Regions from separate parts of the Homo sapiens genome. Here regions 1, 2, 3, 4, 5 and 6 are each linked to region 7. The links come from fine-mapping of genetic effects on gene expression. A gene starts in region 7. Each other region holds a variant in brackets. All regions are shown on one strand. Distances are between the middles of the regions.

Region 1 (4,065 bases), 140 kb before region 7:
GCCCCTCTCTGGGCGGTTTGGAGGATGCTAAGCCCTCTCAGTGCACCATCCAGGGGGTCCATGTTGCAGAAATGAGTGAGGAGGTAGTTATCTTCATCCTCACAGCTCAGCATATGCCTCGACCCAGTGCGATGTAGATCCTTCCCCAACTGCTTCCTGCAAGTCAAGTCACAAAGGTTGGCATTGGTTCTTCACCATAGGCTAGCCTGGCTGAAGCTCAGCTGCACAGAGTCTGTCCTGAGAAGCAGAATGCCACTGTCCCCTGGGCCCTCCAGACTGCCAAGGCTGCTCAGTTTCAGAGAGCAGGCTCCCTGTGGCCTCACACGCCGGCTGCCAGCTGGGCCAGGTAACTCTGGCCAGGCTGCACTGTGAAGAACACGAGAGTCGGCGGAGACCTGTGCCTGCTCTTCTCAGCCTCAATGTCTGGAAGACAAAAAAAGGCATCCTGCTCCCAAGATTGTGGTGGAGGCCAGCAGGGTGACGCACATGAAAGCCACTGGAGATAGATGGCACTTGTTCCCACCCACTGCCCACAACAGGCCCAGGACTGCCTCAGCCCCGGTGGACCCCAGAGCCAGCAGGCCCTTCAGAATGGAAGGTGCCAAACACCATCGGAAGGCGTGGTTCTTTTCAGAGAACCAGACTCTGAGACTGTGGCCTCCCACTATGAGTCACCACCTCTGATTCCTGAGGTCCCCTCCAGTCATTGGCTCTCTCCCAAGCCAGCCAGCTGATCAGCCTTGAGGACAGCAGAGTGTCTGCCAAGAGAGATCTGTGAAGTTTCCCATCACCGTGGCAGTCCACAATGTGAAGCCCCTGAGGCCACCCTTCTCCATGTGTCCCCCACACTGTCCCTGACCCTCCCACCATCCTAGAAAACCAGCCTCCCAGGTCCTCTGTCATGGAAGTAATTTACAGCAAGGCAGAAAGAGCTGAAAGATTTATAAATGTGTAAAATTTACAAAGGTGTTTCTTTCTTTCTTTCTTTCTTTTTTTTTTTTTTTTTTTTTGAGGCAGAGTCTCACTCTGTTGCCCAGGCTGGAGTGCAGTGGCACAATTTTGGCTCACTGCAACCTCCGCCTCCCGGGTTCAAGTGATTCTCCTGCCTCAGCCTCCCAAGTAGCTGGGATTACAGGTGCATGCCACCACGCCTAGCTAATTTTTGTATTTTTAGTAGAGACAGAGTTTTTTGCCATGTTGGCCAGGCTGGTCTTGAACTCCTGACCTCAGGTGATCTGCCTGCCTCAGCCTCCCAAAGTGCTGGGATTACAGGCGTGAGTCACCGTGCCCGGCCTACAGAGGTGTTTCTGAGTGGAGAAACCACTGCCTGGTTGGACTGACTGCCCAGTTCCACCACCCTGTGAGCCCATGAGTGAGCTCACTGCACTTGTTATAGACATCCTACCACCAGCAGCCTGATTTTGCTGAGTCCGTAGCTTACAACTCCAATCTCATGGCCCTGCCTTTCACCTCACTTGCTGCCTTAAAAACCTGCAGACTGAGGTGGCGTAGAAGCTGTGACATCCCAGTACCCAGAAGTTCATCTCACACCCAGATCTTGGTTTCTAAATGTCATTCTCTACTAAA[AG/A]GGACCAGGGCTGGTACAGGAGAAGAGCAAGAGCTTGGAATATCTTATACCTGAGAGTAAGGAAGTGCTCAGAGAATCACAGGAGCACGTTAAAAGGACATAGAAGTCAGTTTAATGAGACTGCTTCTGGCCAAAGTTGGAACACATCAAACATTAAAACAATGATGGTAATGGATTAGATTCCATAGAATAAAATCCTTGAGGACATAGTTATATAAACATAACTGAGGAAGAAGGAAAAGCTCTCCCTAACAGAATAATACAACTAGTAAATGGGAAAGGAAAGGAGTTAGGAATTCACGCTGGGTATTGAAACTAGTGGGTGAAAGCTCAATGAATCGGATTCTTAGTCTCAATGTCTCTCCTCTCAATTTAGTAATTATAGTGGAGTAATCATGACTTTACAGTGGAGAAACCTGGCCAACACTACCTTCACAACACTAACAAAAACCTTGCAGACCTGCAGCCTAAGCTCCCAGAAGTCACCTGCTGAAATGCCTTCAAAGAGTGACCTCTCTGCGTGTAGTGCTCAGCAACTTGGGCTCAGTGTCTATTTCCACAAGCTACAAACCAGAATACAGTGGAATTCAGCCCATATGTGGTAATTTATCTACCAATCAAGGACCTTTGACTCCAAAAATTACCTTTTTTGTACAAGTGACTACCTGGTGTAGAGCTCAGACATGGCTTTGAATTTTTGCCATGCTGTGTGAGCTCAGGCAAGCTGCTTCACCTCTTTGAGCTTCAATCTTTTATCTATAAAATGGGAATAACAATAACTTAATGAAACAGCAATTCCAGTGTTAGGTATTTCCTCAGGAGAAATGAAAACACGTTCACACAAATAATTGTACATGTATGTTTCTACACGCTTTATTCATAATAGTCATAAACAACCTAAATATTCATCAACTGGTTAGCAGAGAAAAGAGCAAACCACTGATGACATGAACGAATTTCAGAAGCACTGTGCTCAGTGAAAGAAGCCAGACAAAAATTACATCTTACATAAATTTCATTTATATGAAATTCTAGTGAAGGCAAAACATATAGCCAGGGGCCAAGAGGGGAGGATGGTCTGCAAAGAGGCAGGAACTTCTTCCTGGGGTGATGGGAATATTCTGTGTCATGAACATCGTGATTGTGGTTACAAGACTATACTTTTGTCAAAACTCATCAAATTGTACACCTAAAATGGATGCATTAAGCCTCAATACAGCCAATAAAAGATACCTACGTTACAGTATCTTCTGAGGAGTAATGGGGTGATATATATGCAGCCCCAAGTTCAGTGCCTGTGGTGAGAGGAGTCCTAAAATAGTACCTGTGACCACGCCCCACGGTCTTAGACCTGGGCAGGGCAACTGTGCAGACAGCAGGCCCAGCCAGGAAGCAAGCTGGCAAGGCGTTCTGCAGCGAAGGTGAGTACCAGTGATGCAAGGTGGAATAAGAAAAGTGCCCTTTGGAGGAGTCACTTATGAGGGGAATGGGGAGCAGGGCAGCAGAGGCCCCTCTGCTGCTGGGAACCGGGCGCACTCCCGCCAGTCGCAGGAGCTGGCTCCACCCGCCCCTTCTGATCCAGTGTCCCGCAGTCCTGCCCGCTTCACCGCCCTCGCCTAGCCCCCGCGGGTGGTAAAAGTCCAGCCCGGCGGAGCGCCCCTGCCTCCTTCCACGCCCCTGGCCTGCCCTGCGCAGCTACGCCCAGCCCGCGTCCATCCCGGACCATCCTGTTGAAGGCAGTCCCCTGGCACGCAGGGCTGGGAGCTCTTAGCTGAGGATGGAACCGACTGCACCAGGAGCCGCTGGGAGGAAGGCCGAGGGGCGCAGAGGAGAGGCAAGGAAAAAACAGCAGCCCAAGAATCGGGCCTCCCTGTTACAGCAGGAGTCGCATCTATTTATATATGTTATGTCTTATTGCTCAGCAACCAGCTCTCGGCCGGGGCGTGGGCCGGGAAGAGGGGTCTCCTGGTGCAGCGGGTTGGCGTGACTCATCACCGCCGCGCACTCTGGCCTCTGGGCCTAGGTTAACAGACTCCCGGGTTTCAGGCTGGGCCCAGGCGGCCAGGCCCTCCCTGCTGAGGAATCTGGGTTGGGGCAGTGCCAGCTCCCTGCTTCTCACCTGGCCACAGAAGGGGTAGCGGGAGGAGCGTGGGTTCATGGAGGCAGGTGGACCACCCCTTGGCTCCTGGCTCTGCCACCTGTCCACTGTGTAGCCCTGGGCGAGTCACAGCCTCTGACATCAGCCTGCTTATACTGTAAAAGGAGTGTGAGATCATGTTGGAGGAGACACTACAGTGAAATCTAAATACATTTTAACTCTTCACACACCCTCTCCCATGCATTTGACAGCGAGGAAACTGCAGCCCGGGGCAAAGTTGACTCACTTCCCAAAGCCAACTAATTTGTACTTAGAAGAGGCAGGATTTGAACCGGGGCCTCTGTGGTTTAGAGCCCTGTGTATCTTATCACTGTAACGC
Region 2 (4,065 bases), 39 kb after region 7:
GGATTCTCTATTATCTTCAATTCCCCTCTCTGTCTATTCTTTCACCAGTGCTACACTGTCTTGATTTCTATAGGAAGCGGTGCAATCAGATAGCATGTGCCCTCCAATTTTGTTATTCTTTTTCAAACTTGGCTATTCTAGGTAATTTACCTTTCCATATATAGTACATTTTAAGATCAGCCTGTCAGTTAGTACCAAAAAAAAAAAAACTGCCTGCATCAGATTCTTTCTTAAAGAGACACCCAACCAGTCGCCCCCATGATGGCCACACTGGGTTCAATAAGTTAAACAGGTTTCGTAATGGTGGCACTTCTCAGAGGCTCTGCTGTGCATTGGGATTCCTCGAGAGAGAGACAGGGTGCCGTGTTTCCTAAACCTACTTCCCCAAGGAACCCTTTTCCTTCGTTTCATGGGACTATGCTGGATGCTGGTATTCTGAAACTGCATTCTAACCATTAATGGGCCATAAAATCAGTCTTCTAGAACAAATCAAATATCATAGAATAGAAACACCCCAGCACGTCACTCTTCATAAGAACTAGTACTGAGTATTTTGTTCTAACTTTGTGTGTGCAGGTGGACATGTGTATATACTAGGATGTAATGCAAAATATCTTTCTTACTGTGGATCACATCAGAAAACTTGCAGAAACAGCTTTACAAAAAAGACTGACCACTTCCGTGTGCCCTGGCCTGGACACGCTGTTGGCACTCCCCATGCCGGCTTGGCCTCTCCGTATCAGCCTCAGCCCTGCAACCTGAGCCATCTTTCTAAGCTGTGAATCTGCTCCCACACTCTCTCAGAAGCTTTACTGCTTCCCTTATTACTGCAGAATGATTGCCCAAGTTCTGAGCCCGGCATTTAAGGCTCTGTGCCACCTGGCCCTACCTACTAACTAGTTCTGTCTACCTTCCACTGCTTTCCTCCTGCATCCCACACTCTGACAAGATTTCTGCGTCTGCAAGCACACTCCATGCTTTTTCTGACCTCCGAGGTTTTCCCTGCATTTTTGTCTTCCTCTTAGCGGGCGCTTGGCTTCCGTCACTGTCTGGTGCAGCCGTGCCCATTCTTCAATTCGAGGCTTGGCCACCTCCTCTGAGAAGCCCTCTTACATGATCCCACTCAAATTACATTTTCTCCTCTCTGCTCCCATCATGGGCATCGCCCGCTTACCTTCAGCCTTTGGAAATGCCAAGACAATCCGCAACGACAACTCAAGCCGCTTTGGGAAGTACATTGACATCTACTTTAACCCCAGCGGGGTGATCGAGGGCGCGCGCATCGAGCAATTTCTCCTGGAGAAGTCCCGGGTCTGCCGGCAGGTGAGGCCTCCCCCTTCCCAGGTCGGGAGTTGAGGGAATGGGGGAGGTTTCCAAGAGGGGCCCCTTTCCCACTCTCACCTCTCCTCCCCTCTTCCCCAAGGGCCCTCCCAGAACCCACAGGCCTCACTGGATAATGAGGGCCCTTCCCCAGTATTCCAGGACAGCAAATGATAGAAATTTTTCCATTTTGAGCAGGGCTTGGTGGCGCACGCCTCTAATCCCAGCACTTATGGGAGGCCAAAGCGGGTGGGTTACTTGAGGCCAGGAGTTTGAGATCAGCCTGGCCAACATGACAAAACCCTGCCTCTACAAAAAATATGAAAAAAAAAATTAGCTAGGCAGTGGCACACGCCTGTAATCCCAGCTACTTGGGAAGCTGAGGCATGAGAATTGCTTGAGCCTAGGAGGCAGAGGTTGCAGTGAGCTGAGATTGCACCACTGCACTCCAGCCTGGGCAACAGAGTGAAACTCTGTCTCAAAAAAGACTTTTCTCCATTTTGAATTTTCCATTCACATACATTTCTTCTTTCTTTGGTGCCTACCATTCCTCATCCCTACTAGAATTAATTCTGAGACTAGGCTAGTTGGGTGGGCCGTATCTTCAGGTATGTTAGGGGACATGGCAGAAAGACACAGATGACAGTATCCCAAATACCACATGGCCAGGAAGTACAGTGGCATGTGGCCTGTGTTGTCACACCAGGCCCTGTGCTCAGGGGGCCCCATGCTTGGTTTCATGCTCTGCTATTGCCACCTTGAAATTCTTACTAGCTTTTTAGCAAGAGGGCCCATGGTTTCCTTTTGCACTGGGCGATCATGTAGCCAGTCCCAAATGGTAGGAATCCCAACACATGGCACCCACAACAGCAGAATTAATGCACCTGTGTGTGTGTGTGAGTGTAAGGGGGTGCTCTCGTATGATGGCATAACACCTAA[C/T]ACATGCATGTGTGCAAATGAGTGCACACACACAGAAGGGGTCCAGAGGGGAGAATGCCACCAACAGAGGGGCTGTGGCTGTGTGAGAGGGACAGATGCCTCCGCACTGTGACAAGCTGAGAAGGAAGGTCACATTTAGTGACCCTCCGACCTGGTGCTATACTTTTCCTGTTTTATCTCATTTGACCTTCACAACCATGAGAGGTAGGTCTCTTTATCCCTATTGTACAGATGAGAAAACTGAGTCCAGTTAAGTTCGGCCCCTTGTCCAGGGTCACAGAGCCAGCAGATGGCAGAGTCTCTCTGCCCTGTCTGGAAGCTCCTATTTCTTGATATAGTGGTTGCTGAGTTCATAGAACTTGTCACCCAAAATGATACCCTGAAATGGGCAGGAAATTTCTAAAGCAGGTGAGAAACAAGGCCTGCCCAAGAAAAGAGAAAGAATTTAAAATTACGGCATATCTATACTACAGAGGAGGCGGTCTGTCCATGTCAATGTAAAGGATCACCAAGAGATATGTTTAGGTGAAAAAAAAGGAAGTAGCAGAACCACAAATATGTTTTGTGTAAAAAAAAAGAAACAAAGAAAAGAAAAGAGATAACTATTTATAGATATACTATAAGTAAATGTTTTTTTAAAAACATGTCTAGGTTCTGGGGCGGGGAGGAGGGGATTTAAGAAAGGGGAAGGCAGGATGGAAAGGAGCTCTCATTTTTTTGTTTTTGATCCTCCCACCTCAGCCTTTTGAGTAGCTGAGACTAGAGGTGTTTACCACCACATCCAGCTAATTTTCTTATTTTTTGTAGAGGTGAGGTCTCACTATATTGCCCAGGCTGCTCTCAAACTCCTGAGCTCAAGTAATCTTCCCGCCTCAGCCTCCCAAAACTGCTGGGATTACAGCCCAACTGAGACTCCCATCTTTTAACACTACTGCATATGCTTCAGATTGTTTGATTTGTATGAGAATGCATTTATAAATAGTGTTTTAAAAAATACAGAAGGCACCCTAGGCAACATGGCAAAACCCCATCTCTACAAAAAATACAAAACTTAGCCGGACGTGGTGGTGTGTGCCTGTGATCTTAGCTACTTGGTAGGCTGAGGTGGGAGGATGGCTTGAATCCAGGACTTCGAGGCTACAGTGGGCTGAGATTGCACCACTGCACTCTAGCTTGGGTGACAGAGCAAGACCTTCTCTCGGAAAAAAAAAAAATACTGAAGGCCTAGGGAGCCCCGTGGCTGTCAGATCTCTCGTGGGCCACTAAGTGCCTGTGAAGACTGTGGGACTATAAGAGAGCCCCGACTCTGTGCCATCACTCCTGGCCTGGAGACTTTGGGCACAGCAGTGTCAGGGCTTCGAGGAGCAGTCAAGATGCAGGGAAATGGAGTTCTCAGGGCAGGGATGAGACAGCCGCGGAGGCCCGGGACAGGGACAGCAACCAAGCCAGGCTGGCCCTGGGTCAGTGCCAGAGCTGCTCCTGGCTGAGAGATGTGGAGCGGAGGCCAGGGCTGGGCTGGGCAGAGGCAGTCTGAGGCCCTGAGGCCTCAGGGGAATGGCTCATGAATCTGTCTGGAATGCCCTCCCTCCCTCCCAGGCTCCCGAGGAGCGGAACTACCATATCTTCTACTGCATGCTCATGGGGGTGAGTGCTGAGGACAAGCAGCTGCTGAGCCTGGGCACGCCCTCCGAGTACCACTACCTGACCATGGTGAGCTGCCCACCTGCCGCCTCCCAGTAGCCAGTGGAAGGGAGGAAAAAGAGCTTGTGCCGCTCCACCCTCCGCGACAGCTGCAGAGAAGCCCAA
Region 3 (4,065 bases), 54 kb before region 7:
TGCTCTAAGCTTTCGGCATAGTGATTTTCAGTTATATCCATATTTCCTTGAAGACAGTAGTATTTCTTGATCTTTTCTCTGTTATAAGCCCCCATCCCAGAGAAAAATGAAAATCAAAATAATTATCCCAAATAAGAGAAACACATTAATAAGATTTTGTTGGTATTCCATTTCCACCCCAACTGAGGTACTGCAATTCAATTCTGATACGACACACCCAGAGCTGGCATCAGACTCCACGGGTTTAAGAGGTCAGTCCTCCACAATACTGCCCCCACTTCAGATGCAAGCCACAAGTGAGGCATCCAGGCTACTGTCGCTTCTGACCAGCTACAAATTTGGGGTTCTCATAAACCTCTCAGGTTTAAGAACTTGCTGAAATGACTCACAGAACTCAGGAAAGCACTATCCTTCCCTAGAAAACACTATGATTAGTTTTACTACAGAAGATATGAATTAGGAGGGCCAGTCAAATGAAGGGATACATAAGGGAAGGTCTGGGAGGGAAGGCAGAGCTTCTGTGCCCCTGTCCTCATGGAGGGGAATCCTCTCCCTCCCAGCACACCAATGCTTTCACCAACCAAGAAGCGTCATTGAGCTGTGGGGTCCAGAGCTCTTCATCAGGTCCCATTTGGCAGGCATGGTTGATTAAATCAAACAGGTCACTGACTGCGTCTCAATCTCCCGGGTCCTGCTGGCCCAACCCTCTGTAGTAGCTGTTTCTGGTTACCAGCCTCCACCCTAAAGCCCACCATACAGTCACCTCGTTAGCATAACAAGAGACGCTCTATCACTCAGGAAACCACAAGTGTTTTAGACATTCCTTGTCAGCAACCAGGGGCAAAGGCCACACAAATTCCTCATTATACCACAATGAGGGAGGATTGAACCTCTAAGGGTCACAAACCCCTATAATATCATAAGATTTTTTCCCACACAACAAGAAACAATCTTTGCCCCTATTAAGAATGTATCCTCTAAGAAATGAAGAGACAGCCCCCCAAAAACCAGAATGAAATTTTATTGTGTAAAGTTTATAGAAGTATGACTAGTATTCCTTTGTACAAAGTACACAACGGTTTTAAATATAACTGAGAGAAATGTGAGTCCTATGACAACATCTGATACACGCTGAACCATTTACAGACACACTAAAAATGTTTTAAAATATCTTCTTTCTCCAAAGAGTCCATTGCGCATTTCTTAGAGTAGAGATGGGGACACATTCCAGGCAAGGTCACAATGGCATTTTGTTGCCCTCAATGCTGATTTTCACTGCGTGTGCAGATCTGCTTTTTTTCCTTATATCTGTGAACTTTCTCATCTGTTTATCCAGTCGACTGATACCCTTCTTGGAGGTCGCCTGAAACTAAGAGTAAGGGAAAAATTAAAGAGCAAACTACTGAAATACGTAAGTCTAGTTATGTCTTTCATCTTCTTATAACTGAGTTAGCAACCAGAAGAGCTTCTAGCTCTGGAATAACCAGAATGTGTGTTGATGACCTCAAGAACAACAAAGCAAGTATAGATGGTGTTAGAAACGCATATTAAACTCTCTCAGTGAAGAATAATTCTGTTGTCTGTGCTTTATTTTTAATTTTGCTGCAGTCCATGGAGGTCTCCTAGATGGGAGAAAGGGGGGGGGAAACTGAGACTATGATCCTCCCAATTCCATCATGTACATTACGTTTTAACTGCATGCGTTTCCCTTT[C/T]GAAGACCAAATGTGGAGCTAGCCGCTTGACATGCACTTTCAAACAGTGCTGGCATAAAAAAGAATGACCTAAAGCAAAGTCAGGTCAGCTGAGAAAAAGCCTTAAGCATAATAAATGAGGTTAGATGATTAGTGAAGTAAACCCCTAAGTGCAGGAGCTCTTGAGTTTTTACACTTGGGGTGAATCCCTGCTCTAATTCAGTAACTTCTGTGACCCTGGGCAAAGCATACCCAGGGTAGGTACTCCTTCCAGAACTGCTGAGAGAAGGAAATGAGATAGTGATGTCAGATCCAAGCACAGAGGCTGAGCACATATAGTCAGTGCTCAAAATAATAGGAGCTATTACTATTTTACTACTTCACAAGCAACTAGATTTACATTAAGTATACTTGACACAAAAAGAATATTAAGTCTTTACCCATTTGCCCTTCATGTTTAAAGGTTTGGTTTGGGGGCTATTTTATATTTTGAAAATACTGCCTTGCAAAGATGTGGTCTCCAAGAAACTGCCATCTTTTAGAAATGCTAGAAAGGTTTGCTGACTCTGTTGTAAAACAATTCAGATGTTTAAGAATGATGACTGCTTAAAAAGAGATGGGTTTTTCTAATTCTTCTCCCCATACATTTACTACTGAATCACCTCTGAAACTCAATTCAAAAGAATGCTAAAATAAGGTAGGGCCTGGGAGACACTCTGGGGTCAGTACCAGCCTGGTGAGCTTTGGTGGAATCTTATCCCACCTGTGGACCCAGCCTCAACTATGACATGAAGCCAGCTGAGCACTAGGCAAGGAACTCTAAGTCATTCTTGACCAAGAGCCATGTTGACCTGTCTTTCTAGGAATATCTCAATTCAAATATTATTCTGTATCGTCTCAATACTTGGCATTCGTACTCTGAGTAAGCATAAAAAGTGTCAGATGAGAAAGAGCTATGCCACCATCACACTATCTCCCAGATTTCCTGGACAGTCCCAAATATCTGACTTCCTTTTAGAGGATGTGCCGTGATCTTAGTACTTGTACTTGGTCCACATCGGAAGCTTTACCTGCTCAAATCTCTGCCAACTACACAATTCCCAGCAGCTTCACACATTAACTGGACTTCCCTTCGCCTACTCCCAGGACCCTCACTAACTGTCTAAGCCCTGATGGATCTGTCTAGCCTCAGCAATCAGGGCACACACGGGCCAGTGGGTTACAAAATATATGACTGGTAGTTGCAGATGCCTACTTACCCCAAGCTTGAAAAGACAGACCAGAGTACCTCATACACCAAGTTCAATGATCTCTCTCCTGATTCATCAAGGGAACGCTACACTTCCTTAGAAATTAAGAGTGTGTGCTACACTGCTTTACCAGAGCAAGGCCAAAAGCAGCTTCAATTATGGTACAACTGTGTGAAGACACAATGCAAAACCACTCAAGAATGCTCACTCAAATGGATTTTTACCATGGTAAGTAAAAAACAAACCCAATAAGGTATAAAAGAATACAATCACAATGTCGCTTGAAAAAAAAACAAAAAACAAAACAAAAACCCAGTAATTGTCTATGCATATGTATGAAAAAAAAAGAAATAATTTAAAATGTTAACATTAAGTTGTGGTGGGATTACAGATGGCATTAATTTTATTTATGCTTTCTGTATTTTTAAAAGTTCATGAAAAAATAGGCATTCCTTTGTCATTTTACTGTTATTTTAGAAGTATTCCACGGAGTAAATGAACATATAAAAAATACAATGTAGCACAGGTTACTACATTATTTAGGAGTAAAAAATCAGAAATCATAAACGAACGAATAAACACATTATATTCATGGCCGGGTGTGGTGGCTCCCGCCCGTAATCCCAGCACGCTGGGAGGTCAAGGCCAGAGGATCGCTTGAGACCAGCCTGAGCAAGATGGTGAAACCATCTCTACAAAGAAAGAAAATACATAATAAAAAAAAAAGCAAATTATATTCAGGATAGACCATTATGCAGCCATTAAAAATGATAAATCGACTAGGTGGTTTAATGAAGGAAAATAACCAAAATTATAATTTGGTCGGGGCGGGGGGTGGTGGGGTGGGGGGGTTGGGCTGTGTGTGTGTGTGTGTGTGCGTGTGCGTGTGTGTGTGTGTGTGTTTTCTAGAGATAGGGTCTCACCTAGGCTGGAGTGCAATGGCATGATTCTAGCTCACTGCAGCCTCAAACTCCTGGGCTCGAGTGATTCTCCTACCTCACCCTCCCAAGTAGCTAGGACTACAGATGTATGCCACCATGCCCGGCTAATTTTTTAATTTTTTGGTAGAGATGGAGTCTTGCTATGTTGTCCAGGCTGATATTTAGTATAATTTTAATTAACGT
Region 4 (4,065 bases), 130 kb after region 7:
TGGGTGGCACTGGCCTTCCTCTGCTCCTGGGTCCTCCAGGCCCTCCCCTACCTCTGCGACTTATGTTCCTGGCTCCCTCCCTGCCCCCCCGCCCCAGCCCTTCTGCCCAGCCTTGGCCTCCTCCCCAGGGTCCCTATCTGTCACCTTGATGCCAAGGACCCCAAGGTCACAGCCCTATTGCTCTCTCTTCCCCGCTGGCCCCTCGGCACTGCAAAGGCAACATTTTCAGGAGCTCCTCCTCATGCCCCTGACCCCAAGAGTGAGGGGAGGTGGCTCCACCACCATCCCCGTGCCCCTCCCAACCTCCCCATCCAGAGCCAACTCATTCTCTGAGATGCCCTGAGGACCATCCTGAACCCCACTGCTGGAGTCAGTCTAACCTGGGTTCAAATCACAGCATAGCCATGTTTGGGGTGGGTGAGTCCAGCAGGTGTCTGCTCTGCTCAGAACCTGTCTGCTCATCTATAAAGTGCAGCATGATCACCCCCGTCTGAAAGCAGTGCTGGGGGCTACACAGGCTCCCTCGTCTCTAACATAGGTCCCTGGGCGCACCCTGCCAGGAGAGCTGATCACAGGTGACATCCAACCCTGTTAGATAAAGTCGCACGCGCCCACCCTGTCGCCAACCCAGGGCCCATCCGACGCCGGGGCAGAGCCCACGGCGTCGGAGGGCCCCGGTCGGGTTTCCGAGGGAAGGCCTGCCCTGCCGCCGCAGCTTTCCGGCCATTGTCCCCGCCACCCGCCCCGCCCCTGGCCACCTACCCCGTGGCTGGCGGCGGGCTCTGCCGGTGCTGGCGCCGCCGGTACAGCCCCGACGCGGCCAGCGCACCCAGCCGGGCCGCCATGGCGCGGGGCAGCCGCCTTGAGGTCGCGGGCGCGGGCCGCCTGGTGCAGGGGCTATGGGACCACCTCGGAGGGGAGGCGCGGCCGCCTGGGGCCAGACACCAAGACGGGACGGGCGTGTGGGCGCCTCCCCCGCGCTGGTCGCGAGCTCACGTTACGCGCTGGGATCTCCAAAGGGCAGCAGAGTCAACTCCAAATAGAAAGGATATTGTTCGCGCCGCGGGGGCAGCTCCTGAAAGCTGAGGCTGGCGGGGGTTGGGTCCCGCTGGGAGGGGACTGGTCTGGGAAGGCCCCAGACAGCACTGAGGTGAGGTCCACAGTGGCGGCAGGACACCCAGGAGGTCTCCGGCTGCCACCTGCCAGGAGGAAAGCCTGTGCCCGTGGACACACTGAGGAGGGCAGAGTCAGCTGAGGAGGACAGGGAGGACCTGGCGCCTTTAGGATCCCTGCCAACAGTTAGGAAACCGAGGACCGGAGCCACACAGGCCCACATTCTGCTTTGCTCCCTTCTCTGAGACCCTCTGCCACAAACATCACCGTGGGGCACCCAGACCAGGGCAGAGCCGATCCTCTGGATCTGGCCAACAAATGGTCAGGCACCCCAAAAGAGGTCCTTATTTTAGAGAAAAGGCAATCCTCCAGCTTCCAGGGGAGCAGACGCAGAGGGACCTGGTGGCAACCACCAGGAAGGCACCATGTACCCCGCATTTTTACCCAGAGAGACTGGCAAAGTTACTTGTGATTCATAAACACCCGCGGTAGGCATCCAAACTGTGACCAAGGT[A/G]AGCCTGGTCAGCAGTACAATAAAGATCCAGAGCACTCATGGAAATCTTTAGCATTGATCCCATTTCCCTGAAAGACCTTTCTAGAAAGGTCAGAAAGCTTGAGCAGTATCTTCTTCTGCCTTCTGAAAGCAAGAGCTGGCAGCCGTCACTAAAGACAGCAGGGCACTGATCCTCCCAAACTAGGGTGGGAGAAAGCCTTGGAGGGGCTCACTGGCATTCAGATACCAGGCCCACACGCCACTGAGGAACACACTCACCCAGCAAGTCCCAACAGGAGGAGGTACTCATTAAGCACCCTGGCAGTCAAGTGACGACAAGCATTGGGTACAGTATAATTTGTAAATGTAGTCCAATTCCAAAGTTGCCCAACACTGATCAGTTCAACAAATAGTTTTTAAAGGTGGCCCCAGGGGCTAAAGGGCATGGAGAAGCTGAGCCCAGAGGAGCCAAAATGAATAGGGAATACCGCTGACTCTCTGATGTAGGTAGCCGAATGCTTAAGAAAACTTACACCGAAAATGTTCTTAACAGCAGCTACAAGTCAATGCCATAGGGCCTAGACCCTCTCACCACTCCCGACTCAGCCCATCCATGTGGAAATCCTCAACACTAGAATCCAGGACTCTCATGCAGACCCGCAGTTTTCTGTAAGGAGGAAACATTTATTTAGGGCTCCAAGGGTCACATATAGCACTGGAAAGGAGGCTACAGCCACAAGTGTTTTGTGCAACATAATCTGTAAATGAAGTTCAAGCACAAGTTTACCAAGTACTAATCAATTCAACAAATATTTACTATAAAAGCGGACATCGAAGGCTAGAAATTGAGAGAGGCTTAGAGTCTGATTGAGCCCAAATCCCAAATCTCTGCACAACCTTACCACCCATTCTGCAGCCTGTCCTGCTGCAGGGATGGGATTGGGAGCCACAGATACTGTAAACTGAATCTAGAACTCTATACAAAGTATTATACACCATGACCAAATGGGATTTGGTTCAGTGCTCTGGCTCTAGATATTTGCAAAAACACCGAGAGTGATGTCAGCAGAAAGTGGTGGAGTAAGGACCTCCAGAAGTTCATCCCTCCATAAAAGCAATGAAAAACCTAGCAAAAATTATCAGAATCTACTCTTTCAGAACTCTGCAAATCCACCAAAGGTTTTCAGTAACCCTAGGAACATTTGGTCAAGAAAAACAGATGAATCTTGGTAAACAAACAAACAAACACAAACCAGTGAGGTTTGTGTTGTTTTAACTTATCCTAGTCCCTTATTCCTGCTCCCTAACTCCATGGCTTCCTTGAATAATAATAGCTCGTGGTCCCAGTAAGGAGGTAGCAGAATGGAATATTATGAACAACTGTATGCCAATAAATGAAATAACCTACTGAAATGGAGAGATTCCTAGAAGGACACTACCAAAACGAACTCAAGAAGAAATAGAAAATCCAAATGTATCAGTCTAAATTTTCATACTGCTATTAAGAACTTCATGAGACTCGGTAAATTATAAAGGAAAGAGGTTTAATCGACTCACAGTTGAACAGGGCTGGGGAGGACTCAGGAAACTTATAGTCGTGGCAGAAGGCAAAGGGGAATCAAGGCACCTTCTTCACAAGGTGGCAGGAAGAAATACCAAGCAAAGGGGGATGAGCCCCTTATAAAACCAGCAGATCTTGTGAGAACTCACTATCACAAGAACAGCATGGGGGGAAACACCCCCATGATTGAATGACCTCCACCTGGTCTCTCCCTTGACACGTGGGGATTATAGGGATTACAATTCAAGATGAGATTTAGTTGGGGACACAAAGCCTACCCAAATCACTTAGTAAGGCCAGTAACATGTAAAGAGACTGAGACAGTAACCAAAAAACTTGTCACAAAGTAAAGCCAGAGCGACATGGCTTCACTGATGAATTATATCAAAGGTTTAACTAGAATTAACACCAAACCTACAAACAAACATACAAAACACCAGTGTGGTGGCACATGCCTATAATCCCAGCTACTCAGGAGGCTGAGGCAGGAGAATCACTTGAACCTGGAAGGCGGAGGTTGCAGTGAGCTGAGATCACGCCACTGCACTCCAGCCTGGGTGACAGAGTGAGATCTTGTCTCAAAAAGAGAAAAAAACAAAAAACAAAAAACAACAAACCTTCACAAAATCTTTCCAAACAAAAGAAAAGAAAGACTAGGAGGGAATACTTCACAACTCATTCTATAAATATTATCTTGATCTCAAAATAAAATGCTAAAGTCACATAGATGCAAATGTCCTCGATAAAATACAATAAATCTAACACTCTATAAAAAGTATTATACACCGTGACCAAATGGGATTTATCCCAAGAACATAGGGTTGGTTTCACATCCAAAATTCAATGTAATATACCATATCAATAGAATATAGGGAGGACACTCTATGACCATCTCAAC
Region 5 (4,065 bases), 85 kb after region 7:
TTGATCATATTTGACTTCCAGAAAGACCTCCCTGGCGATGTGGCAGGATGGAGCCTGGGGCTGGGAGGCCAGGCAGGGCTGCTACAGAGATCCAGAGAGAGCTGATGAGGAATTGCCCAAGGAACAGGAGCCAAGAGGAGGGGACAGAGGAAACATGCAGGAGACAGATGGTAGCATGTGGGCACTGGTTGGATCGTGGGGGCTGGTTGGATTGTGGTGGCTGGTTGGGTTGTGGGGGCTGGCTGAATGGTGGGCGCTGGTTGGATTGTGGGGGCTGGTTGGGTTGTGGGGGCTGGTTGGGTTGTGGGGGCTGGTTGGATGGTAGAGGCTGGTTGGATTGTGGTGGCCAGCTGGATTGTGGGGGCCGGTTGGGTTGTGGTGGCTGGTTGGGTTGTGGTGGCCAGCTGGATGGTGGTGGCTGGCTGGGTGGTGGGGGGTGGTTGGGTTGTGGGGGCTGGTTGGGTTGTGGCCAGTTGGATGGTGGTGGCTGGCTGGGTGGTGGGGGGTGGTTGGGTTGTGGGGGCTGGTTGGGTTGTGGGGGCTGGATGGTGGGGGCCGGCTGGGTGGTGGGCGCCAGCTGAGTAGTGGGTGCCGGCTGGGTGGTGGGGGCTGGATGGATGGTGGGGGCTGGTTGGATTGGAGGAATGAAGGGATGGGAGGGCTCCAGGATGACCCCCAGATTTCCAGTTTGGGTGAATGGCTGATGGCGATGCCTGTAGACCACAGAAAGAGGAGGGATGCAGGAACTCAGAGAGCCAGCCATGCACATTGCTTCCCATCTCTGTTCGGTGATGTCGTGTCGCAGTTGACATTGGCTTTGGTGGGAACATGTACACCACAGAAATAAGCAAATGCTGTGAATTGGGCTTTTCTTCTTGGGGGAGCTGGTTGATAAACATTTACCAGCACACCACTGAGTATTAGGGGAAAGATGCTGGCCTCTGGAGATGTGGCATTTGAGGTGTTAATGGGCCACTTTTATAACATGATAGAGGCTTGAGTCCATGGGGAAGGACGCAGGAGAGAACCGCCCCCAACACACCCCCACCAGGAGTGGGGAGGCTCCACAGACCGTGGGAGTAGGAATGGTCAGGAGATGGGGTTGAGTGGCTCCCATGAAGTCCTCACTTTTCTCTCTGCTGTGGAGGGGAGGGGCTGCATTCAGGGAGGGAGGTGGGGCCTCAAGGCAGAGAGAGAAATGACTGTAATCACCGTGAGACTGGGGATCCCGCACATCTGGGAGCAGATGGGCTGTGCAAAGGGCGCGGCTGCTGAGGACAGGGCTGTGGCTGGAGAACCTGCTGCTTCCTGAAGCCGAGCCCCACCCTAAAGGACCGAGAGCACAGGCCATGGGAGAGGAATCGAGTAGGGATGCAGAGCCTGGTGGCACTGTCCTGAGAGAGGAGGAGGCTGGGCAGGGCCCCGGCGCTGGAGAGGTGCCCTGCATATGGGACCTCTCAGAGGTGCACAAGAGCTGTGTGCCCAGGTACCCCTGTCTCCTCTCCTCCTCCAGCCCCCAGCCTACTCTCCTAATGGTCTGTGTCTTTCAGGGATGAGATTTACTGCCAGATCTGCAAGCAGCTCTCGGAGAACTTCAAAACAAGCAGCCTGGCCCGGGGCTGGATCCTGCTCAGCCTCTGCCTCGGCTGCTTCCCACCCTCAGAGAGGTTCATGAAGGTGAGAGGGTTCATGAAGGGAGGGCGGGCAGGGGGCAGGTTCTGGTGGGAGCGTAGGTGGCCCCTGGCCCTGGAGCAGGTCCACAGATTCCAGTACGTGGCCCATTTCTCCTGCTCCTGCAGGCCAGATGGGCAGCCATGCCTATGCTTCTCCAGGACTCAGTTTCCCCATCTGGAAAAGAGGACCCTGCTCCTGGCTCCTTCCAGCCCCTACGCAGGGTCTGCAGGGCCATTTCACTTTGGCTCAGGTGTCAGGATGGTGCTTCAAGACTAAAATGAGAAGGTAGATGACACGGGCCTTGAAAAGACAGGTGTCCAGGAGTGGGCCCTGCCTGGAGATGTGCCACGGCACCTCTTTCTAGTTCTTAGGACTGAAAATGGAGCTGGGTTGGCCGAGTGTTAGTGGCCCCAAGCTTCACTGATTTAATATGCCTTTAAATTCTGATTATAAAAGTAATATGTGGAAATGCAGAACATCTAAAACCAAAATAAAAGTCACCCCCACACTCAGAGCTAACTTCC[G/A]TTAATATTTCCTTCTGGCCTTTTGTGGTGTTACAGGGTCCTTGTGATCAAACAGAAAACACTTTCTCACATGTCCCTTTGGGGACAGCAGGAACCACGGTCACTGAAGCCATCTGCGCATGGCACTCAGGCTGCTCCTGACACCAGTAAACCCTTCCAGGCTGTTCCTCCCCACCCCAAGGCAGAAGAAATAACATCTCTCTGTGAGACAAAAAGAACTTCAATGTGTTTTCTTGAGCATGTTGGGGACATGGACTCTTCTGCAATTTTTTTTTTTGTTTTTTTTTTTTTTTTGAGACGGAGTCTCACTCTGTCGCCCAGGCCAGAGTGCAGTGGAGCGATCTTGGTTCACTGCATCCTCTGCCTCCCGGGTTCAAGCAATTCTGCCTCAGCCTCTCGAGTAGCTGGCATTACAGGTGTGCATCACCACACCAGGCTAATTTTTGTATTTTTAGTAGAAATGGGGTTTCACCATGTTGGCCAGGCTGGCCTCAAACTCCTGACCTCAGGTGATCCTCCGACCTTGGCCTCCCAAAGTGCTGGGATTATAGGTGTGAGCCACCATGCCTGGCCCTGCACTTTTCATTTACTGTCTTCATTATGTTTTCTCATGGTGTCAACCTCCCAAATGCCAGCTTGATGCCTCGCTGTTCCAGAAGGCACTGGGGTTGGGGGTGGGCATTTAGAGTCCATCTTCCAGTCATTCATCACCATAGAGGCCATCACAATCAAAAACCACACATCCACCTTTAGGATAGGCCTGCATTGTTGTGACAAAGAGTGTGCACACATCAAGACTATGCACCGTTTAAAACGTGTTGCCAAACTGCTCCTCAGAAACACACTGATCCATGTTCCTTCTAACGGGTGTGAGGGTGCCCCTCAATGCACATTATACACTGAGTATTATAATTCTTAAGTCCACCTGGGTGGTGAGTAGAAACTGGCCTCCTTTCTGAGTGTCTTCCTCCCTTCTCCCCTCCTCACCCACCAGTATCTACTGAACTTCATCGGCCAAGGGCCGGCGACCTACGGCCCCTTCTGTGCCGAGCGCCTGAGACGCACCTATGCCAATGGGGTGCGTGCGGAGCCCCCCACCTGGCTGGAGCTGCAGGTAGGGGCTGGCAGGGGTGAGAGCGGGCAGGGTGGGGTGGTGCAGACCCCCAGGGACCCCCAGCACAGCTCATGGGGTGCCTTCTCCTAGGACAGAACTTTGTCCTCTGAGCCCCGCCATCTCCTCTGCAGTACCTCCCATGCCAGTGGTCCCTGTGAGTGCCCCTGGGGCTCGGCCTCCCCAGGCGTGACCCCCATCTCCAAATCCATATTCCTTTAGGGCCCTACTAGCTAAGGGGAAGATCACCGGACCCACTCATTAGCATTACAGTGCGCCAGTTGCTTCCAGCACTCCCCTCCAAGGGCATTTCACTTGGTGACAAGGGCAGTAGTCACACCATGGTTGGCATCCTTGGTGGCATTGCTATTGGGCACATGTGCCACCTCGACCTGCTTTGGCAACTGTGTCATCTGTGAATTCTCGCTGTTTTCTCAGGAAGGGTCATTCAGAACAGCCAGCCAGGGTGGCGAGAGCACACCTGCACCCGGCTCTACACAAAGCTCTGGCCCCAGCCTAACCCCGGCAGGTGCCCGCCCTGTGACCCGAGGTGCCCTATACCAGGAGCTGTGGGTCACTTCCGCTGCACCTTCTTTCTGTTCTCACCCTGCCCCCGAGCCCACAGGGGCTCCCTCCCACGAGCCCTGGAATTGTAGGTGAACTTGCAGTAGCTGTGCATGTTGACACAAGGGAACAATACGTAAAGGCCCCAAAATGTTCCCGAGTCCTGGACTCAGATTCCCAAGAGCTCCTGGT
Region 6 (4,053 bases), 28 kb after region 7:
AACCTTAATTACCTCCTTGAAGGCCTTATCTGCAAATATGGTCATGTCAGGAATTGGGGCTTCACTATATGAATTCTGGAGGGACACAATTCAGTCCATATAATGAGGTTTACTTGTATTTTTGCCCATCTTCTATAGCGATCTTCTTCCTAATTCTAATTTTATTTTATTTTTTATTTATGTATTCTTTTTTGACAGAGTCTCTGTCAGCAAAGCTGGAGTGCAGTGGCACGATCACAATTCACTGCAACCTCCACCTCTCAGATTCAAGCAATTATCCTGCATCAGCCTCCTGATTAGCTGGGATTACAGGCGCCCACCACCACGCCCAGCTAATTTTTGTGGGGTTTTATTGTTTTTTTTTTTTTTTTTTTTTTTTGAGACGGAGTCTTGCACTGTTGCCCATGCTGTTGTGCAGTGGCATGATCTCGGTCACTGCAACCTCTGCCTCCCGGGTTCAAGCAATTCTCCTGCGTCAGCCTCCCATGTAGCTGGGACTACAGGTGCTTGCCACCACACCCGGCTAATTTTTGTATTTTTAGTAGAGATGGGGTTTCACTATGTTGGCCAGGCTGGTCTTGAACTCCTGACCTTGTGATCTGCCCGCCTCAGCCTCCCAAAGTGCTGGGATTCCAGGCATGAGCCACCACACCCAGCCAATTTTTGCATTTTTTTAGTAGAGGCAGGGTTTCTCCATGTTGGCCAGGCTGGTCTCAAACTCCTGGCCTGTCTTGGCCTCCCAAAGTGCTGGGATTACAGGTGTGAACCACCACATCCAGCCCCTAATTCTAATTTTTTAACAAATTCTATATCATTTTGCTCACTTTTCTCCTTCCTACCTTTTATGATTCTTCCCATGTTTTTATAATCAGGGTATGTTCTCCTGCTGTTTCCAATTTTGCTTTCATTCTGGTCTGCATTTCTTTCATTTCCTCAATTTTTTCATTCGGCTCTGCCAACTCATGTCTCATCCTTTTTCTCAGTTGTCCCCCATCTAATTCCTGGGCTCTTTTGCCTCTGACCTACTCTTTGGTCAGTTTTTGTAAATTATGGTGAAATACTTGGTCACAACTTCCTACTGCTCTGTGGCAGTTATTTCTCTTTTGCTGAGTATTATTTGCTCCTTTCCTCCTCTTGGGTTTCAGTACCTCCGAACACAGAACTGTGCTGGTTCCTTTTGGATTACTTCTCTTCAGATGGGGTGAGCTTTCTTGGATTAGAAGGAGGTTCATGAGGTGTCAATGCCACAGTGCAGGCTAGCAGAAATCTCACATGTGAATTTTTAGTAGTGGCTTCTCCCACCCAATAGATCTGGGTACTGCAGAGCTTTTCACAGGGCAAGACTTCTCTTTTCCCACCCCACAGAGAGACTGCTTCCTGCAAATATGGAAGACCTGCAAATATGGTGTTTCCTAGAACCAAGACAGGCCAGGCAAGCTCCGCCTGCCACCTTGTGCCCTTGCTCCTACTGCTGCAGCAAGACATGCTGCTTTTGCATGCCAGGATGGGCTCCTGCCTTGGAGAAGTGAACTTTGCCCTCTCTTTCTGGAACCTACAGCTGGGGCCACCTTTTCAGCTTCCTCCTGCGTCTTCTAGTGCTCGTTTCTGTTTCTC[A/T]TCCTCCTATTGCTTGTGGGTGATTTCTGAGAGGATGCAACTCTTGCTACCGTCATCAAGCTTGAGAAGCACTTTCTCTCTTAACCACTCAGCCACACCACCTTCCTAAATAGTAGCCAAGTTTCTTTTTCATTATGAGAGGTGCTGTGGTGAGACCAGAGCTCCTGTTCTTGTCAGCTTATTGTCCCAGACAAGACAAAGACATGGAGAGAAGCTGTACAGGCGCTTGGTACCTGCCCAGTGAGCAGGGAGAAAGAGAGATGGGAGAGGGGAGGAGAGGAAAGGAGAGACAAGCTCCAGCCACCTTGGGAGCTCTGGGCTGGAAGGCATAGCCCCGAAGAGAAGTAAGTATCCAGCAGGGAGGGGAAGAGAGAGCGGGGATCACACCACTGTCTTCTGTCTGCCCTCCAGGGTGACCACGTGTGGCTGGAGCCTCCCTCCACCCACAAGACCGGCGTGGCCATCGGGGGCATCATCAAAGAGGCAAAGCCAGGCAAAGTCTTGGTTGAAGATGACGAGGGCAAGGTCAGTGTTCTGGGGTTTCCTCTGGGCCCTGCCCTGCCCTCACATCCAGGGCCCTGGAGCCCTCCCCGCCCTGTGGAGCCTCTCCCCAACACCAGGGGCTCCAAGGCCAAGTGGGGACCTGGGTGGCAGGACAGATCACGGTGGAGTCCTGCCATGGAGAACATGGCCTGTGTGTCCTGGGGAACGTTTCAAGAAGGAAGTGGGAAGTGGGAAAGGGGCTCTGGAAGGGCCAGAGGGGCAGAAAGCCAGTTTGCAAAATGAAACGGGCAAGGGGGAAAGGTGGGTGAGGAAGGTGTGTGGAGGGGCAGGACGGGGCAAAATGCACAAGTAAGAGGCCAGCAAGCTGGAGTGGCCCGGGAGTGACCAGCTCGTCCACCAGAGGGGTCAGGGCCAGCTAGGTGGTGAGCAGGGAAGGGCTTACAATGGAGTGTCCAGCCGGTCACTTAGCTCCTCAGATTGTCCTCTGTGCTCAGCTGGGTGCTGCAGGCTTAGCCTCCAAGGAGAAGTTTCTAGGCTGTGGCCTGTGAGTTCCAGATGATGGAAGTCAGTAAAATAATAACAATATCTTCTATTTGTGTGACACTGTAGTTTTTTAAAAAAGCTTTTACTTGCACAGTCTTATTCCAACAACCTGCAAGGCTCCCAGCTGCAACCTGACCCTAAATCTAACTTCTGGCTATAAGCTCCTTTGTCCCTGGTCTGAAATTCAGCCCTAGCCCCAGCTACGCCCTAACCCTGGGCCCTAGACCCATGCTGACCCAGCCATAGATGGACCGGATCCTGCCACAGGAGTCTCTTGACCCTTGTCATAGACTGACCCTGGCCGGAGGCTGGCCACTGCCCCAGGTCAGCTGATCCATGACCCGGAAGGTCACCTTGCTGCTGAGAACTTGGAGGGGAGGGTGTGGCAGGCTGGCCATGGGGATGGAGGCCACCCCTCAGGGGAGTCTGCACCCATTGTTCCAGGAACACTGGATCCGAGCAGAGGACTTTGGTGTCCTCAGTCCCATGCACCCCAACTCAGTCCAGGGTGTGGACGACATGATCCGCCTGGGGGACCTGAACGAGGCAGGCATGGTGCACAACCTCCTGATCCGCTACCAGCAGCACAAGATCTATGTGAGTCTCCCCAGCCCTGTGTCCACAGGGGAGCCCCTCACAGGTGCCAACCTCCTGGACAGGGAGAAGAAAATGATGCACAGGGGGCACTGCCCCCCATGCCCTCACTGAGGGAGGTGGGCGAGGTGCCTAACTTTTCCCAATCTCTGCTGCCCAGTCCCAAACAAGGAGGGTGATCCCACCCTGGAGGGGAGGAAGCCAATGCGTAGAGTGACAGCACAGTGCCTGGCACAGTCTCTGCTCAGTGAGGGCTGCAGATGGCCATCAGGTGGCCATCATCCTCTGCCCTCTCCTTCCCAGGCATGTTGTAGAGACAGAGTCACTAGACAGAAAGCCCCTGGCCTCCCAAGAGTGAGGCCCGTGACAGCCCAGATCCCAAGGTCCTGATTCACCAGACGAGGGGGCCATGGGGATGGATGTGGGCCCTCCGTGCAAACCTGGCCTGGATGGAGGTTCACTCCAGCCTGAAGCTCTCATCCTGGTTCCAATGCAGATTTTTCCAGGGGAGGTGGTATTCCAAAACCGACACCAGTTCGGCCTAAGTAGGTGTGGCCTGCAGAAGCCACTGCCTGCCTGGGCCTCTCTGGTCTGGAGGGGTGGCTAGCTTGGTTCTGACTGGCCCTTCTGGGCTGCTCAGAGGAAAGCAGCTTGTGCTTCCAAAGGGCTTTTGCCTGCACTCCTCATCTGGTGGCACAGCCTGAAGCCAGAGGGCACGTCCTCTCCTTTCCTAAAGTGAAAACCAGGACACCATGGTCATGTGGCTTATTGTGCAGGCTCTGCCTGCCGCACCCCCTG
Region 7 (4,065 bases):
ACCTCTCCTTTTCTCTCCCACCACCGCTTGGTCTGTGTCCCCACGAAAGGTCCATGTTCAGGGTTGCCACCCTGCCTTGACCTCAGTTCTAAAAGACGATGGCTCATTCCCACATTTCTGCCTGCAGTTCCCAAGTCCCTCCAAGTCCAAGGAAAAGAAAGGAATCTGATTGGCTCTAGTTGGGCCAACTGTAAGGATGACCAGACCCCTTTTTTACCCAACACAAGGCCTGTGGCTGACCAGGTAACTACCTGCCCCTATTATCCACCCGCCTTCAAAGCCTTGCATAAATGAGCTCCCCTCGCCCTCCTGCTCACTTCCAGGGACTGCCTGGCCCCTCCAGTCTGACCCCACCCAGGGCCCACTGCGGTTGCACTTCCCTTCTAAACAGTCTGTATTTGCCTTAAGCCCAAATCCCCCTTGATCAAGTGCCAGCCCAAGCCTGCCCAATTTGTTGCCAGGTACCCTCCTGGGAACCTTGTTGTCTGATGGCCTTTGTCTCTAAGGCTTCCTGATGGCCCCAGACATGTCCCAGGTGTATGCTCCTTTCACACTCAACACAGAACACTCTCTTGACCAGGTGTCCAAGCAGTTCTCCAGCAGACTCCGTCTGGATGTCCTATAATTCAATTCAATCAGACACTGTCAACCTGGAGTCATAGATCCCACAGGTTAAGGGCTCAGTCCCACAAAACTGCCCCACTTCAAATGCAGTCTCAAGTCCTAGGTTGCCACCTATACTTCTGACCAATTGGCTATAAATCGGGGTTCCCATGCCCCACACCTGAGGTTGGATTTGCTAGCATAGCTCATGGAACTCAGGACGGCACTCATATTGACCAGTTCGTGGGAAAAGATTTTACAAAGGATTACAGATGAGCAGCCGAATAAACACGCACAGGTGAGTTGTGTGGGAAGGTCATGGAGCTTCCATGCCCTCTCCCGCATGCCACCCCCCAGGGACCTCAGATGTGTGGAAGCTTGTCAAATCTTGTTCAAGAGTTTTACCTTCCCAGAGGTCAGTAGGCGGGGCTGAAAGTTCCAACCCTCTATTCACTAGGTCTTTCTGGTGACTGACCCCATGCTGAGGCTAGGTAGGGCCCCCACATGGTCACCTCCTCAGCATAACTTCAGGTGTTATCAAACGGACTCATTATGAGATGATCACTTGGGAAATTTTTTGTTTGTTTGTTTGTTTGAGACGGAGTCTCGCTCTGTCACCCAGGCTGGAGTGCAGTGGCCCGATCTTGGCTCACTGCAAGCTCCACCTCCCCGGTTCACGCCATTCTCCTTCCTCAACCTCCAGCTGGGACTACAGGCGCCCGCCACCACGCCCAGCTAATTTTTTTGTGTGTGTGTTTTTAGTAGAGATGGGGTTTCACCGTGTTAGCCAGGATGGTCTTGATCTCCTGACCTTGTGATCCGCCTGCCTCGGCCTCCCAAAATGCTGGGATTACAGGCGTGAGCCACCATGCCCGACGATCACTTTGGAAATTCTAAGGGTTTTAGGAGTTCTGTGACACCAACCGGGAACAAGGACCAAATATACTGTATTTTATATTATACTACCACCCTCAATTAGAGCTTGGGGTGCTTGGGGGCAGAGCTCCTGCCATGCAGCACCTGGGAAGATGCTGAGCCCCCGGATGGTCAGCTGACTGTCACCATGGGATCTGGCTGGTGGCCAGAGCAGGTGCACAGACTGCAAACCCTGGTGGCCTCCGGGCAGCATGCATCGCTGCTCTGCAGAAGGGGCCTGGGTTAAAGAGCAGGTATCATGAGGCTCTGCCAGCTGGGGCTGAGGGAGGCGTGTGGGAGTGGAAGTGCCTGGAGCCCAGGGACAAAGTCCTGTAATAAATTACGTGGGCCCAGAGTGCTCCCAGTCATTTCCTCTTGGAGCCCTACCTCTTCTTCCTCTGTCCCTTACTCCCTGACACACCCGGAGTCCCAACATTGCCTCCTTTCCTGGCTCTTTCAGGGTGCCCAGGGTGGAGGGGAAGGGGAGTCAGCCAGACCCCCATCCTGACAAGGTAAGGGCGTGCCGGGGGCGTGTCTGCCAGCGGGGAGTAGGGGGTCACCTCTCTGAAGAGGGTCGCTGGGCAGGAGGCAGGTCCCCTGGAAATAAGATGGAACAGGTCTGAGGGATAGAGAGTGGAGAAGCCCTTCAGGAGCCTGGAAACCAGAAACCGCAGCAGGGGACTCAGTCCATCGGGCTGAAGGGCAGCACCTGGGGGGCTGAGGAGGAGGAGGAGGGGGAGAAGCTGTCTAGCCCTCTGCTGTAGAAGGGCAAACTCCCTGCAGGAGGGGAACGGCAGGTGCCAAGGCTGCTCCCACCCTGAAGCCTCCTCACAGCTAGAGGGCCTCACTGTGGAATCATGGGACATCATGGATAGCCTGGGTCCCATGATGAGCCCCTGCCAGATGTCAGCTGTGCCGTGTGTGACATCCCACTGCGTCCTCGCAACACAGTGGTGGAATTGCCTCCATTTTATGGACACAGAGACTGAGGACCATGGAAGCGAAGGTGCCCACGGGAAGAAGCAGAGCCGGATTCGACTCCAAAGCCCAGGCTTATCCGCCTTACCCATGTACCTTGGGCAATTGGCTTTAGTCACCTCTGGAAGGCTGGGACCCTAGGGAGAGGCAGGACAGGTCTGGGGTGTGGTGGGGGGGGGGGTGGGGGAAGAGGTGGCTGAGGAGAGGGACCGCACCGGGGCTCACATGGGCTGTCCCCCTTGAGCTGTCCAGGTGGTGTGTGTCCCATCCCCATTTCACAGAGGACGAAACTTGAGACACAGAGATTGTGAGAGCTGGCCCAGGTCAGACAGCTGGTGGGTGTGGGGCCCCCAACCCAGATCCCCCAAATTCTCCATGACGAGGCCTCCCCTTCAGGCTCCACTTTGTAACCCTGGACTTGAATTTTGCTCTAATTTATCAGAACCCTGCACTTTGTTTAGGATTTTAGTTCAGAGATTCACACACACCCTCAGTGAATCATTGTTAGGAACCACTCAGCTCATCAGCCCACCCCATCTCCCTGGACCTGCTGGGGGCCCTACGTCTGTCCTCAGATGCCACCTCTAAGAGAATCCTCCCCAGGCGGCTGTCTTGGGGCCTGCTGCATCCACAGCTCTAGCACGGGGCTCTGTGGAGAGGCGGCACCACAGGGATGACCTATATGTGTTGATATTGCTTCCTGTTTTACATATGTCAAAAGACAAAATTATAAAAAATTTATCTTAAAGATCTTAATTGGCTTTTATTTGCAATTCTAGAATTGGGCAACACCCCACTTATAGAATACAATGAATGATCTGATGAGCCGAGCAGAGGAGTTTGGCTTTATAGACAGAATGGGGCTGAGAGAAACAGAAAACAAAAGGGGATTAGTCATTTCAATTTATTTTCCTTGTAAAGGATAGAGCTGAGGGAACTTCCTTATCATGCCCGCTGAAACTGGCCTGTCTGGGGCTCCAGCTATTGTCTCTCTCCTGATTCTTGGAAGGTCAGATAACCTTCGTTTGGGCCTGGTGGTGTGGAACTTCAGCATGAGTGACTCCATTTTGGTCTGGTCTGTTGGCCTTGTGTAGGAGCTCAGACAAAACCAATGGCCTCCATACATTTTACTTAACACATGTATTTAAATGATGTTTGTGTGCCCATTCTTGGTCCACATACCAAGCTGTTCAGGGAGGAAGAGCCAGAATCTTAGCACATTTTTCACAGAAGAGATGAAGAAGGGTAAAGGAGACTGGGCATGGTGGTGGCTCATGCCTGTAATCCCAGCACTTTGGGAGGCCGAGGTGGGAGGATTGCTTGAGCCCACAACATGGGGAGACTCCATCTCTATAGAAGAATAAGAAGAAGGAATAGGAGGAGGAGGAAGAAGAAGAGGAGGAGGAGGAGGGGGAGGAGAAGGAGAAGGAGGAGGAGGAGAAGGAAGGATTTGACCAAGGCCACTGGACTATGAGCTCCTCGAGAGCCTGGGCTGGGTTTCTCTGGGGTTTTTCCATCTCCTGCACATGCCCAGGCCTCAGCAGAGAATGGACACTTGGCACATGCTGA

Alleles and levels. Alleles are on the strand shown, and positions count from the first base shown. SD is a standard deviation of normalised expression in the study named. Not every link is listed here.
With allele A in place of G in region 4, the expression in visceral fat of the gene that starts at base 1,882 in region 7 is higher (small effect, 0.26 SD a copy in GTEx).

What was found. PIP is the estimated chance that this variant, and not a neighbour inherited with it, causes the effect.
Region 1: its variant is fine-mapped to the expression of MYO7B in whole blood (INTERVAL, PIP above 0.99).
Region 2: its variant is fine-mapped to the expression of MYO7B in whole blood (TOPMed, PIP above 0.99).
Region 3: its variant is fine-mapped to the expression of MYO7B in blood mononuclear cells (TOPMed, PIP above 0.99).
Region 4: its variant is fine-mapped to the expression of MYO7B in visceral fat (GTEx, PIP above 0.99).
Region 5: its variant is fine-mapped to the expression of MYO7B in whole blood (INTERVAL, PIP above 0.99).
Region 6: its variant is fine-mapped to the expression of MYO7B in whole blood (TOPMed, PIP above 0.99).

The regions. Positions count from the first base shown.
Region 1 is chr2:127,397,747-127,401,811 of GRCh38, forward strand. It overlaps MAP3K2-DT (MAP3K2 divergent transcript), which reads left to right. Exons shown (of 4, transcript NR_187129.1): 4 at 201-2,834. Among named protein-coding and RNA genes, the nearest start is that of MAP3K2, 12 kb to the left of the region's middle. RefSeq lists an enhancer at 2,732-3,444. The variant AG/A (reference allele first, on the strand shown) is at 1,588.
Region 2 is chr2:127,572,740-127,576,804 of GRCh38, forward strand. MYO7B (myosin VIIB) reads left to right here. Exons shown (of 48, transcript NM_001393586.1): 7 at 1,181-1,323; 8 at 3,856-3,969. Among named protein-coding and RNA genes, the nearest start is that of MYO7B, 39 kb to the left of the region's middle. The variant C/T (reference allele first, on the strand shown) is at 2,260.
Region 3 is chr2:127,479,807-127,483,871 of GRCh38, forward strand. IWS1 (interacts with SUPT6H, CTD assembly factor 1) reads right to left here. Exons shown (of 14, transcript NM_017969.3): 14 at 1,006-1,369. The coding sequence ends at 1,238. Among named protein-coding and RNA genes, the nearest start is that of IWS1, 45 kb to the right of the region's middle. RefSeq lists an enhancer at 1-952. The variant C/T (reference allele first, on the strand shown) is at 1,713.
Region 4 is chr2:127,663,544-127,667,608 of GRCh38, forward strand. The region is part of intron 1 of LIMS2 (LIM zinc finger domain containing 2); the gene reads right to left. Among named protein-coding and RNA genes, the nearest start is that of LIMS2, 10 kb to the right of the region's middle. RefSeq lists an enhancer at 1-361. The variant A/G (reference allele first, on the strand shown) is at 1,628.
Region 5 is chr2:127,618,790-127,622,854 of GRCh38, forward strand. It overlaps MYO7B (myosin VIIB), which reads left to right. Exons shown (of 48, transcript NM_001393586.1): 27 at 1,551-1,677; 28 at 3,193-3,312. Among named protein-coding and RNA genes, the nearest start is that of MYO7B-AS1, 10 kb to the right of the region's middle. RefSeq lists an enhancer at 1,410-1,459. The variant G/A (reference allele first, on the strand shown) is at 2,199.
Region 6 is chr2:127,562,128-127,566,180 of GRCh38, forward strand. It overlaps MYO7B (myosin VIIB), which reads left to right. Exons shown (of 48, transcript NM_001393586.1): 3 at 2,026-2,139; 4 at 3,106-3,258. LOC105373609 (a long non-coding RNA gene) reads right to left here. Exons shown (of 3, transcript NR_132317.1): 2 at 2,561-2,660. Among named protein-coding and RNA genes, the nearest start is that of MYO7B, 28 kb to the left of the region's middle. RefSeq lists enhancers at 1,519-1,568, 1,879-1,978. The variant A/T (reference allele first, on the strand shown) is at 1,615.
Region 7 is chr2:127,533,802-127,537,866 of GRCh38, forward strand. It overlaps MYO7B (myosin VIIB), which reads left to right and starts at 1,882. Exons shown (of 48, transcript NM_001393586.1): 1 at 1,882-2,030. RefSeq lists an enhancer at 1,914-2,764.